Homo sapiens: one gene and its partners. The protein of the gene in region 1 purifies or fractionates together with the protein of each later gene. This does not show direct contact. Each region holds a gene or a part of one and is shown in the gene's direction. Other genes may lie near its edges.

Region 1 (3,654 bases):
TGTAATCTCAGCACTTTGGGAGGCTGAGGCGGGGCAGTGGGATCTCTTGAGGTCACGAGTTTGAGATCAGTCTGGCCAACATGATGAAACTCTGTCTGTACTATAAAAAAAAAAAATGTGGAGGTTGCAGTGAGTCGAGAATGTGCCACTGCACTCCAGCCTGGGTGACAGAGCAAGACTCAGTCTCAAAAAAAAAAAAAAAAAAAAAATCAAATAATGTTCTTGGTTGAATGAAGCCATTTATATGACATAGTTATTTTTGTGTCATTTTTAGAGGATGCATACTTCCCTATTGAAACTTTTTGTTTTAAATGAGAGGGGAATCAAAATAAAATATTCTGGAGAACCTTGAAGGGGAAAAGAGAGCATAAAACATATTTCAAAGGAAAGCATAACTTAGAGTGAGAATAGAGAGCAGGATTAAGTGTATGAGCCTGGCCAGGCCTGGTGGCTCACGCCTGTAATTCTAGCACTTTGGGGGAGGCTGAGGCCAGAGAATTGCTTCAGGCCAGGATTTCAGGACACCAGCCTGAGCAAATGAGACCCTGTTTTTAACAAAAAAAAAAAAAAAAAGCCTTAGTCATTTATATGACCTCCTTAGAATTATAGAAAGTTAGCTGGAAGAAAAATTTGTCTAACAGATGTAAAGATAGAAGTATACATAGATTATGACTTGTCCTAGGTTACCTAATCAGTGAGGGACAGAACTAGAACTGAGATCCAGACCACCGTCCCCACTCCAGTGGATGCATCCTGGAACCAGGAATGGGGAAGGTGGAGCCACTAGCAAATACAGCCCTCATTTGGGCCAGTGGTATGAATTTGCTGATATAGTATTTGATTTCACATCTCTAACAAGTTTTATTAAGATTGCTATGGTTTCTTAATTTTGATAATATTTGATATCTCATTTTTCTCAGACCTATAAATTATAAAGCAAAATTAGAACCATTTTAGCAGTTCATTCAAATCATTAACAGCCTGCATATGTATATAGATAGCAACATTTTCATTTGAAACCACAGATTTGCAAATTACTTCCTGTTTCATTTATCCACCCCAGTGCTACCAGGTGTTCTGTTCAGAAGTCCAAAAGGGTAGAGGAAAGATGACTAATATTGAGCAATGGTCTTAGTATTTTGGCTTTTCAACTACTTTCTATTCGTCATTCTCACATTTGGATTTGGTTTACAGTTGTCAAGGGTACACTCTCAGCGCTGATCAGTGGAATTTGTGAGAGCAGAATTCTCAACCTTGACACTGTTGACAGTTTTGGCCAGGATAATTTTTTGTCATAGGGAGCTATTCTGGGCGTTGTAGAGCGTTTAGCAACATCCTCTACCAGCTAGATGTCAGTAGCATCCTCCACAATAGCATCCCCCAGATCAGAGCAACCAAAGGTATCTCCAGATACTGCCAGAAGTCTCTGGATGGTGGGGAGGGGTGTGTCAGAATTGTCCCGTACTGAGAACCACAGATTTTTTCAGTATTGTTGTCTTGCAAATTTCTGATGAAAGATCATTTAGTTGACCATTGCGTAATGTTGTCTCATTCTCATTTATGCACTGAGCTGGGGGTCCTTCTGCTTGGAAGACTTTTTTTTTTTTTTGGAGACAGGGACTTGCTGTGTTGCCCAGGCTGGAGTGCAGTGGCGCAATCATGGCTCACTACAACCTTGACCTCCCAGGCTCAAGCGATCCTGCTGCCTCAACCTCCCCAGCAGCTGGGATCACAGGCTTTTCCTTTTGACATTTTGAGGGGGAAGTTCTCACTGTGTTGCTCAAACTGGTCTCAAGACTCTTGAGCTCAGGCCAGGTGCAGAGGCTCACACCTGTAATCTCATTACTTTGGGAGGCTGAGGCAGGTGGATCGCTTGCAGTCGGGAGTTGTAGACCAGCCTGACCAACATGGTGAAACCCTGTCTCTACTAAAAATACAAAATTAGTCGGGTGTGGTGGTGCATGCCTGTAATCCCAGCTACCTGGGAGGCTGAGGCAGGAGAATCGCTTGAACGTGGGAGGCGGAGGTTGCAGTGAGCCAAGATCGCGCCATTGCACTCCAGCCTGGGCAACAAGAGCGAAACTCTGTCTCAAAAAAGAAAAATCAACCTTGAGCTCAAGGGATCCTCCCCACTTGGCCTACCAGAGTGCCAGGATTATAGGCTTGAGCTGCCAGAAGGCAAATTTGATTCTGGAAGAGAAAGAGGATTTATGAAATCTCTGTTTTCAACTGTTCTTTCTCACAAACACACACAAACAGTCCTCATTATTCTTAGATTCCATATTTCCAAATTCACCTACTCACTAAAATTTATTTGTAACCCCTAAATTCATACTCACTTTGCTTTTGCAATCATTGGTGCACATACAGAGAGCTGACAAATTTGAGTACCTTGATGTTTCCAGCTGAGGTTGATCGAGGCAGAGCTCTGCCTTCTTGTTTCATCTCTTACGTTATAAACAAGTATCTTTTTTGCAGCCAGTTTAGTGCCATGTGTGATTTCACTGTTTAAAATGATCCCAAGCATAGCACTAAAGTGCTGGCTGGTATTCCCAAGCTAAAGAAGGCTGTGATATGTCTTAAAAAGAAGATATATACATTGGATAAGCTTTAGTCAGGCATGAGTTATAGTGCTCTTGGTCTTGAATTTAGTGTAAATGAATTAAGAGTAAGTTTAAATTAGATGTCTTTAAACAGAAACACACATAAAACAAGGTCATATATTGATCAGTTGATGAAAGTGTCGTCACCAGATGCTGTTAGAAACATAACCTTGCATTTCCCTAAGAGCAGCAGTTCAGTACTCAAAGCAACTTTATGAAATCTAACTACTGCAAATAAAGGGAATCAACTGTTTGTGTGTATATATATGAAAAGAGAATTGGCCGGGCGCAGTGGCTCACACCTGTAGTCCCAGCACTTTGGGAGGCTGGGAGGCTGAGGCAGGCGGATCACTTGAGGTCAGGAGTTCGAGACCAGCGTAACCAACATAGTGAAACCCTGTCTCTACTAAAAATACAAAATTAGCTGGGCGTAGTGGCACATGCCTATAATCCCAGCTACTTGGGAGGCGGAGGCAGGAGAATCGCTTGAACCTGGGAGGCAGAGGTTGCATTGAGCTGAGATCGTGCCACTGCACTCCAGCCTGGGCAACAGAGCGAGACTCCATCTCAAGAAAAAGAGAATTAATGGATACAGCAGGCAGGATTCTGGAAGAAGCAGGACTGGATTTTATCAGCAGCACTATGGAGGGATTAGCTTTTAAACAAAAGGAAGCCCTTCTCCTGAGACTGCGACTACTGATGATTCCTTTCTTCAGATTCCATTCTCTCCTGACTTTCTTCGTTCTACTTTTATCTTAGTAGGTACTTCTACTTGGAACTCTGCTTTTACCCTAATTTCTTCTTTTAACAAAATTTTTTGTACCCTCAGGTTAAATCCTGTACATGATATACTCTCTAAGAAACTTTACCTTCATGGCATTAATAGTCATCTTTTTATAGACAATTTTATGATTTGTTTTTAATCCTTACCTTAGAAAAATACTATACTACAATTTGAGTGCCTACTCCATGCCACACATTTTAACTATATTATCTTTCATTCTTGAAAATTATCCCACAGGGTAATTATTGTTTGTTCTAATTTTTGGAT
Region 2 (3,654 bases), on another chromosome or scaffold:
CTAGTGCAGTTCCGGGCACCCCACCTGGTGGGGCCTCACTTGGGCCTGGAGACAGGGAATGGTGGAGGGGTTATCAACCTCAATGCCTTTGACCCCACACTCCCGAAGACGATGACGCAGTTCCTAGAGCAGGGAGAGGCCACCCTCTCAGTGGCAAGAAGGTAAGTAAGTGGGCAGCATCGCCCTGAAGCAGCTGCCCTGGTCCCCCTGCACCCTCCCCGCTCTGGGAAACAGCACCAGCAGGTAGCTCTTTTGCAAGGGAGCAGAGTAACCCCACCTTTCCTTTTCTCCCGTTCTCTTAAAAGATCCTTAGAAATCTTACATAATAACATCTTCAGTTTTCAGAGGAGAAAACTGAGAGCTAGGGGAGGTGATTAACAATTTGAAGGCCATACATGTGGTGCTGGAACCAGGACTCTATACTTCATCACACTGCCTCCTCTGGGAATGAAGTCCTGGACTGACTGACGGGTCTGGGCCCGGGGGTCCTAAAAGGCATCTTATGCAGCTGGGGGAGTGATATAGACTCCCAGCTCCTACAAGGAGAGAGGACTGCAAGGAGGTTTTCTATAAGACACTTGGTTCCTGGGTTTGGACTAGATTAGGTGAGAGTGTCCCTGAAGCCTGGACCCCTATAGAATCTGGTCTAAGGAGCTGATGAACAATAAATTAAAAATACTTTAAGATGTCATTTTCATCTATTAAAATGGAAAAAAATACAAATGTTTCACAGCTCACAGTATTAACAGTATGTTCCCATATTGCCATATTCTGCAAAGACTGGAAATCTCCATGCCCCTCATTAGGGACTTGGGTATATCTCTATAGAGCAGTAATATGCAGCCACAAGAAATAAAGAGGACACTCTCTATGTATTGTTACATATTGTTAAGCAGAGATCTCCAAAATCAGTTGTTTTTTTAAAAGATGTAAATAGTATGCTATCATTTGCATACAAAAGGGTGGGAGAAGAATATCCATAGAGTAGCTGCGAAGAGCCAGGGGAACGGGGTAACCGGAAGGGGAAAGGGAAACCTTTCCATGTATTCCAGTTTGTATCTTTTACATGGACATGAGTTACCTAAGGGGGAGAGGAAATCAACACTGGATAAATAAAAGCCCTGCTCTGATAGCAAAGGACAATAGTCAGTGATTTTCACACTGACTCTGATGGTTGATAGAGCTAGGAAATAGATTTCAAAAAGCAAAACCTGTAGCTGCTGCAGGATCTGCCCAGCCTGCCCGGGATTGCCCACCTGTTCCCAGCCAGACCCTCTCACCTGCTCTGGTCTCTACAGAGCCCTGGCTGCCCAGTTGCCAGTCCTACCACGGTCGGAGGTAACCTTCCTGGCTCCAGTCACACGACCAGATAAGGTGGTGTGTGTGGGCATGAATTATGTGGACCACTGCAAAGAACAGAACGTGCCCGTGCCCAAGGAGCCCATCATCTTCAGCAAGTTTGCCAGCTCCATCGTGGGGCCCTATGATGAGGTGGTCCTCCCACCACAGAGCCAGGTCAGTGTCTCCCCACTGCCCTCCCTAGTCACTGGGCCCATCACAAGGGCATTCTGAGCTCAGTATTGAGCCTACTGGAGCCACCTCTCGCTCAATAGCGCATTCAGCAGAAACTCTACAGGATTGTACACACAGTAGTAACACTGGCCTTGGAAAAAAAAAGTTAATGTACGTGTTTTCCTGGTTACAAAAGCAATGCACCTTCACTGTAGATAATAAAATAGAGATAAACATTAAAAAATTATGTCACCCATAATCCCACTGCCCATGGCTCGGAATATTAATGTTTTTCTGTCTACCTTCCCAGTGTTTCTCCGCTCCTGTATATGTTTATACTGTACATATACTTACCTTTTACTTAAGACTCCATCAGGAGCATTTTTTCATGCCATTAAGTATTCGCCCTGACACCACGGAGTTTGTTATGTAGATTAGTTTATTCCTGAGTACCTTACTGCTGGATACTGTTTCTAGTTTTTGGCTTCTATAAATAAATGTTGCAGTAAACATCCTTATGTGGAAAAGGCTTTGCATGTCCATTAATACATTATTATTTCCTTTGAATAAACCCTTTGGAATTTAAATATGTCAGCGTATAGGCAGTATTTCAAAATTTTTGAAAAATTCTGCCAATTGGCCTTTTAAAAAATTGTAAAAGCAACTTACACATCCACCAGTAGTGTATATACCCTTTCTAACACTGGTTACTTTTTCTCTCAGATTTTTATTTTAGAAATGTCTTGAAAATTATAGAAAAGCTGGGAAAATAATACAGTGAACACTCAGATAACTTTTCCACCTGGTTTCATTGTAAACATTTGGCCATATATCCTTTTTCTCCCTTGTCTTCTCCCTGCCCTCCACATGGCAAACACACATTTTTTTTTTTTTTTTTTTTTTTTGCAGGGTATGGGGTGGAGGGGACCTTTTAAAACACATTGGAAATATTAAGACAATTTAGTCATAAAAACGTAAATAGGCATCTTCTAAGAATAAGGACAATGGCTTGCATGACCATCCCACCATTATCACAACCAAAAAAATTAACTTGAATAATATTTAATATGAAATCCAATTGCCCCAATTCCCAATCGGAAGTACTGCTGACTTCCCCAAAGATAACTTCTAATTTGGTTACTTCGTTTGTTGCTCCATGATCAACCAAGGCCACACACTGTATTCAGTTATATCTCTTTAGTGGTTTCAATCTAGGACAGGGTTCCATAGACTTTTTCTTAAAGGGCTGTATTAGTCTGTTTTCATGCTGCTGATAAAGACATATCCGAGACTGAGCAATTTACAAAAAAAAGAGGTTTAATTGGACTTACAGTTCCACGTGGCTAGGGAAGCCTCACAATCATGGCAGAAGGCAAGGAGGAGCAAGTCACATCTTAGGTGGATAGCAGCAGGCAGAAAAGAGCTTGTGCAGAGAAACTCCCATTTTTAAAACTATCAGATCTCATGAGACCCATTCACTATCATGAGAACAGCACGGGAAAGACCTGCCCCCATGATTCAGTCATCTCCCACCGGGTCCGTCCCATAGCACGTTAGAATTATGGGAGCTACAAGTTGAGATTTGGGTGGGGACACAGAGCTAAACCATATCAAGGGCCAATTAGTAAATATTAGGCTTTGCGTGTCATATGTTCTGTTTTGCAACAATTCAACTCTGCTGTTATAGTGTGAAAACCACGATACAGAAATGAATGATGGGTTTCCAATCAAAGTTGATTATAGCAGATGTTGAGCTGGCCATAGTTTGCCAACTCCTGCTCTCAAACAATACCCCCTGCCCTTTCCTTGAAGAATCCAGTTGTCTCATAGCATGTTTCACATTCTGGGTTTGTCTGGTTGTTTCTTCATGATTAGTGTCAGGGTAAGCATTTTTATCAAGAGATCTACAAAGCAGATGTTATACATTTTCCATCGTATCCCACTGGGAGGCTCATGTCAGTGGTCCCAGAATTTGACCACTTGGTTTAGCTGACATTCACTAGGTCCCTCCATTGTGAAGATGCATTTCTATTTTTGTAATAAGCAATCCATGGGTGGTAGTTTGAGATCACATAACTATCTTATTGCCCCATAGCATCTCATCCAGGGATCCTGTGGTCATCCTGACTGAATCTATTATTG
Region 3 (3,654 bases), on another chromosome or scaffold:
AAGACGAGTGAACTACTTGGTAAGTGACAGAGGCTCCCAGTGGGCCTTTAGTAATACTTGGGGCTGACATAAGCACAATGAACACTCCTAGCCTTAGGCTTGAGGTAGGAGCCCAGATCAAATGTAGAGGCTGGGAGAGACGGAAGCCCTCGAGACAACAACGTTCCTGAGCATAATCTGGGCACCAAAAGTGGAATGCGAGTCCTTTTGACCAGTAAAATTCATCCCCACCCCTCACCCCAGACAAATGAGAGAGGGAGTAATTCTAAGATGTAGAGAAACAGTTGGGAAAAAACTTTACAGAGGAGGTGGTATTGGAAGTGAGCCTTGTAGGTTTAGGAGGGATAAGGGCAGACTTTCACAATTTGTTTTTCCTTGTTTTTTTGTTTGTTTGTTTTGTTTTCTAAAGCCACACCAGGAGCAAGCGAGTATCAGAGGCAGAGCTTCTGAGCTTGCCTCAAAGGCAACACTATAAAATATGGTCCTTATTTTGAAGAACATCTCAGTCAAAGAGGGTCAAAACAGTGATTTTGCAGCGTGGTCACTTTCATTCCTGCAGCGCCTTTCCTCTAAGAACAGGCTCATGGGTAGGGGCTCCAGCTCAGATTTCTGGGAATTATTTGATTTGTCCACTCTGTTCCCAGGTGTGCACATCAGCATTAACCAGCTTCCCAGAGCTAGGTGGCTGGCTCTTTGACCCAGGGCCCAAGGCTGTCAGCAGTGGGAGTTGGTCTCTTTATTAAGTTCCATCTGAAATGCTAAGACCAATGATGGAATCACAGGCTGGTTTATTTTCTTGTCATTATTCTTGGCTTTAATTTCTTCCTGGGCCTGATCGACAGGTAGTATTGGTGAGGGAATTTCTTTTTCCTTTTTTCTGACAGCTCATAAATGTCTAGAACCGACAACATGGATTACACGGGCTTGCATTCCCTCAGTCTCCAGTCTTAAAATGTTTGTCCTGCGCATGTTCAGTCGCACAGTGAAGTGTTGATCCCTCCTTATTATGAGCTGCTTGGGCTCCAGTCCCAGTTGGTTTAGTCTGGTGCTATTAAAAATCTTGATGTGTTTAGCATATGACACTGATTCGGTGGAAACCAATACAGTAGTAATATCCTCACAATGCATTGTAATTTATAGTGCTCCCAGGGGATGACAGCCTTGGAATGCCTAACAGGGGAGAACTTATGAAAGCAGAGGTCACGTGGACTAGCCACCACCATAACCAGGCCAGAGAATAGCCGCAGCTCCTCACTCCCAGCCCCCCGTGCCACTTCTCTACTCCTCCACACAGAGCAAATAAAACAGCTATAGCTGCTGCGGCTGTAAAAACAAACAAATAAAACCCAGGCCTCTTTGTTGTGCTTGGATATGAAACTGAAATTAAAAACAAGTCCAGGTTTCTTCATTTGTAGCACCATGTGCCCTGATATCCCTTATTAACCTGTCACTTCTCCTAGTGGCAGGTGGGGAATAGACCATGGCTTCCAAACTCCTCTTTCTTAAAAGCAGAAATGGAGAAGACTGTTCACAGGAGAACACTGTTTGGCTAAAGTTGACCTAATAATGATATTAATAGCGTGACTCTTACTGGGCACCATGCTAAGTGCTCTACGTGAATTACCTCATTTACTCGTCCTCGTTAAAGCCCTATGAGGTAGATACTCTTGTCTCCATTTTACATTTGGAAAAAATGGAAGCTCAAAGAGGTTAAGCACCTTGTTGAGAATTATGTAGCTAGTTTCTAAGCCAGGATTTAAGCCTAGTTCTGTCCAATTAAGAGCCCATGCTTTAGTCCTCAACAACATAGTGCTGGGAGTTGAGAACACTTAAATCCAACTTTCTTTTCTTCTTACTGTTTTTCTTTCCCCAGAAAGGCCTGAGTGTGGACTGATGGGCAGACAGGAGGACCTCACTTGAGCCACTGGGCCCAGCTCTAGAACAGCAGATCTTTTTCTTACTCTTCTTCCTATCCACCACTGCTGCCCTGGCAAAATACTCTCCATTATTAATTTTTAAGTATAAATAATCCCAGGGGTTGAGCTGGCTTTTGCTTGTGCATTCTATGAAGTAAAGTAGGGACATGGTTTTTGTGGCAATAAATAGGAATAGTTTCCATTTTTCTAGCTAAGTATACAAATTTGATAATTAGCCAAACCAGTTTTCTGTTAGAAAAATTCAAAGTAATTTACAGAGGAAGAATTGCCAATAGGTGTGCGTCAGTCTGGGACAGAGTTCCTCCCGTCGGTGTTAATAAGCATGTTAGTGTCCTGTTTTTTTCCTACCCTCTCAGTGCTATTCATTCCCACCCCCCACAATGATTGCTGCATGTATTCATAGAGGAAAAAACTGAAGGCCCCACAACAATGATCGGAACATCAAACCAGCCTGAGAAGAACACAGCATGTCCAAGGGGGCTGAGGCTGAAGGGCAGGCCATCCCCCAGCGATTACATTCGGATTACCGACTTAATCTGCTTTGGTATTTGACCGCCAGCCTAACCACCCCAGGCTGCATTTGGAGGATATTGAGCACTTTCATCCCCAAGCACTTCACTGGCTTTATAAATGACCCACTCGATTCCCTTCGGCCTCCTCTGGGATGGGACATGGCAGCTGTTTAATTGCCACATAGCAATGTTGCAGTGTTTTAAGGCAGAAAAGAAGAATCCTGCATCCAGTTGAAGCTGCAGGGAACATTTAGGGAAGGGGAATGTAATTATCCACATTGGAAGTGGGCCAGGGTTTGGAGCTTTGGGGAAAGAGGCCTTTAGGACTTCTACTTTCCAGCCCACCTGAAAGATGGGGCCTCCTTTCAGCAGTCTGGGACATCAGCCTGCTTCCTGCTGATTTAGGAAAAAGCCCCCAGGCGCCACCTCCTTTATATATTCCCCATCAGACTCTTCACCGGGGTGGAAAGTCTCTTTTCCAAGGTCTGGCTGGGGCTCAGCTGGGAAGATATGACAGCGTCCCGGGAAGCTGCCTCACACCAGTTTGGGTTTAACATATAATCAAATCAGAGTGACAGCAGATGGAAACAGTCTTCTGTTGCCGCAGGAGCCGTCCTTGAGTTCAGAAACAAAGACGGGGGCAAGAAAGACAAGACAAAGTGTGCATTTGTACATGTGTGTTCACACCCATGCACTTGTGCATAGGAAAAATAAGAAGGACTTCCCCAAAATCTTTTATTGGGTCTTATCTCTAGAGGGAATGGGAAAGGAGACTTTCTTCTACATTCTAACAAAGAATTTAATTCTCAAGGTGTTTAAACAAAAAATAAAGGTGAAGCAGCCAGAGGTGTCAAGTTCCCTGAGTGGTTTTTAAGGTCAGAAGTAAGGAAATCAGCAGCTGACTTTCTTCCTTCTTTGAGTACTTCTTGGGAAGTTTTCTGTGTAAAACTCAAAATTTTTTGGAGTAAAAGTGCACAGAAAACCCTGGGGTGGTTGTCGTCCCTCCAGGCCACCTTGGTGCATTATTATGCATTAGGACACCCATTTTAGCAAGGCCCATGACTTACAGGGGCACCTCACTTATCCAGCCCTAGGTCGTGAGGTAGTCCTCATAATTTACTTTTTCAGATAATCAAAGCTTACCCTTTAAAGGCCAAATATAAAAAATAAATTGAGCTACTTAAAAAAAAACAGAAACCTTTCAA

The links.
Region 2: the proteins of HMCES (region 1) and FAHD2A purify together in Homo sapiens (affinity purification with mass spectrometry; one large-scale study listed by BioGRID and IntAct). This does not show direct contact.
Region 3: the proteins of HMCES (region 1) and DPCD fractionate together in Homo sapiens (co-fractionation; one large-scale study listed by BioGRID). This does not show direct contact.

What each region holds. Positions count from the first base shown.
Region 1 is NC_000003.12:129,281,740-129,285,393, forward strand, and holds part of HMCES (abasic site processing protein HMCES), read left to right. Parts: intron 1-3,654.
Region 2 is NC_000002.12:95,405,643-95,409,296, forward strand, and holds part of FAHD2A (oxaloacetate tautomerase FAHD2A, mitochondrial), read left to right. Parts: coding exon 1-161; intron 162-1,298; coding exon 1,299-1,515; intron 1,516-3,654. UniProt on the Homo sapiens protein: Tautomerase that converts enol-oxaloacetate, a strong inhibitor of succinate dehydrogenase, to the physiological keto form of oxaloacetate. It is thereby required to maximize aerobic respiration efficiency by preventing succinate dehydrogenase inhibition.
Region 3 is NC_000010.11:101,594,720-101,598,373, forward strand, and holds part of DPCD (protein DPCD), read left to right. Parts: coding exon 1-19; intron 20-1,873; coding exon of another isoform or gene 1,874-1,920; exon of another isoform or gene 1,921-3,295; intron 3,296-3,654. UniProt on the Homo sapiens protein: May play a role in the formation or function of ciliated cells.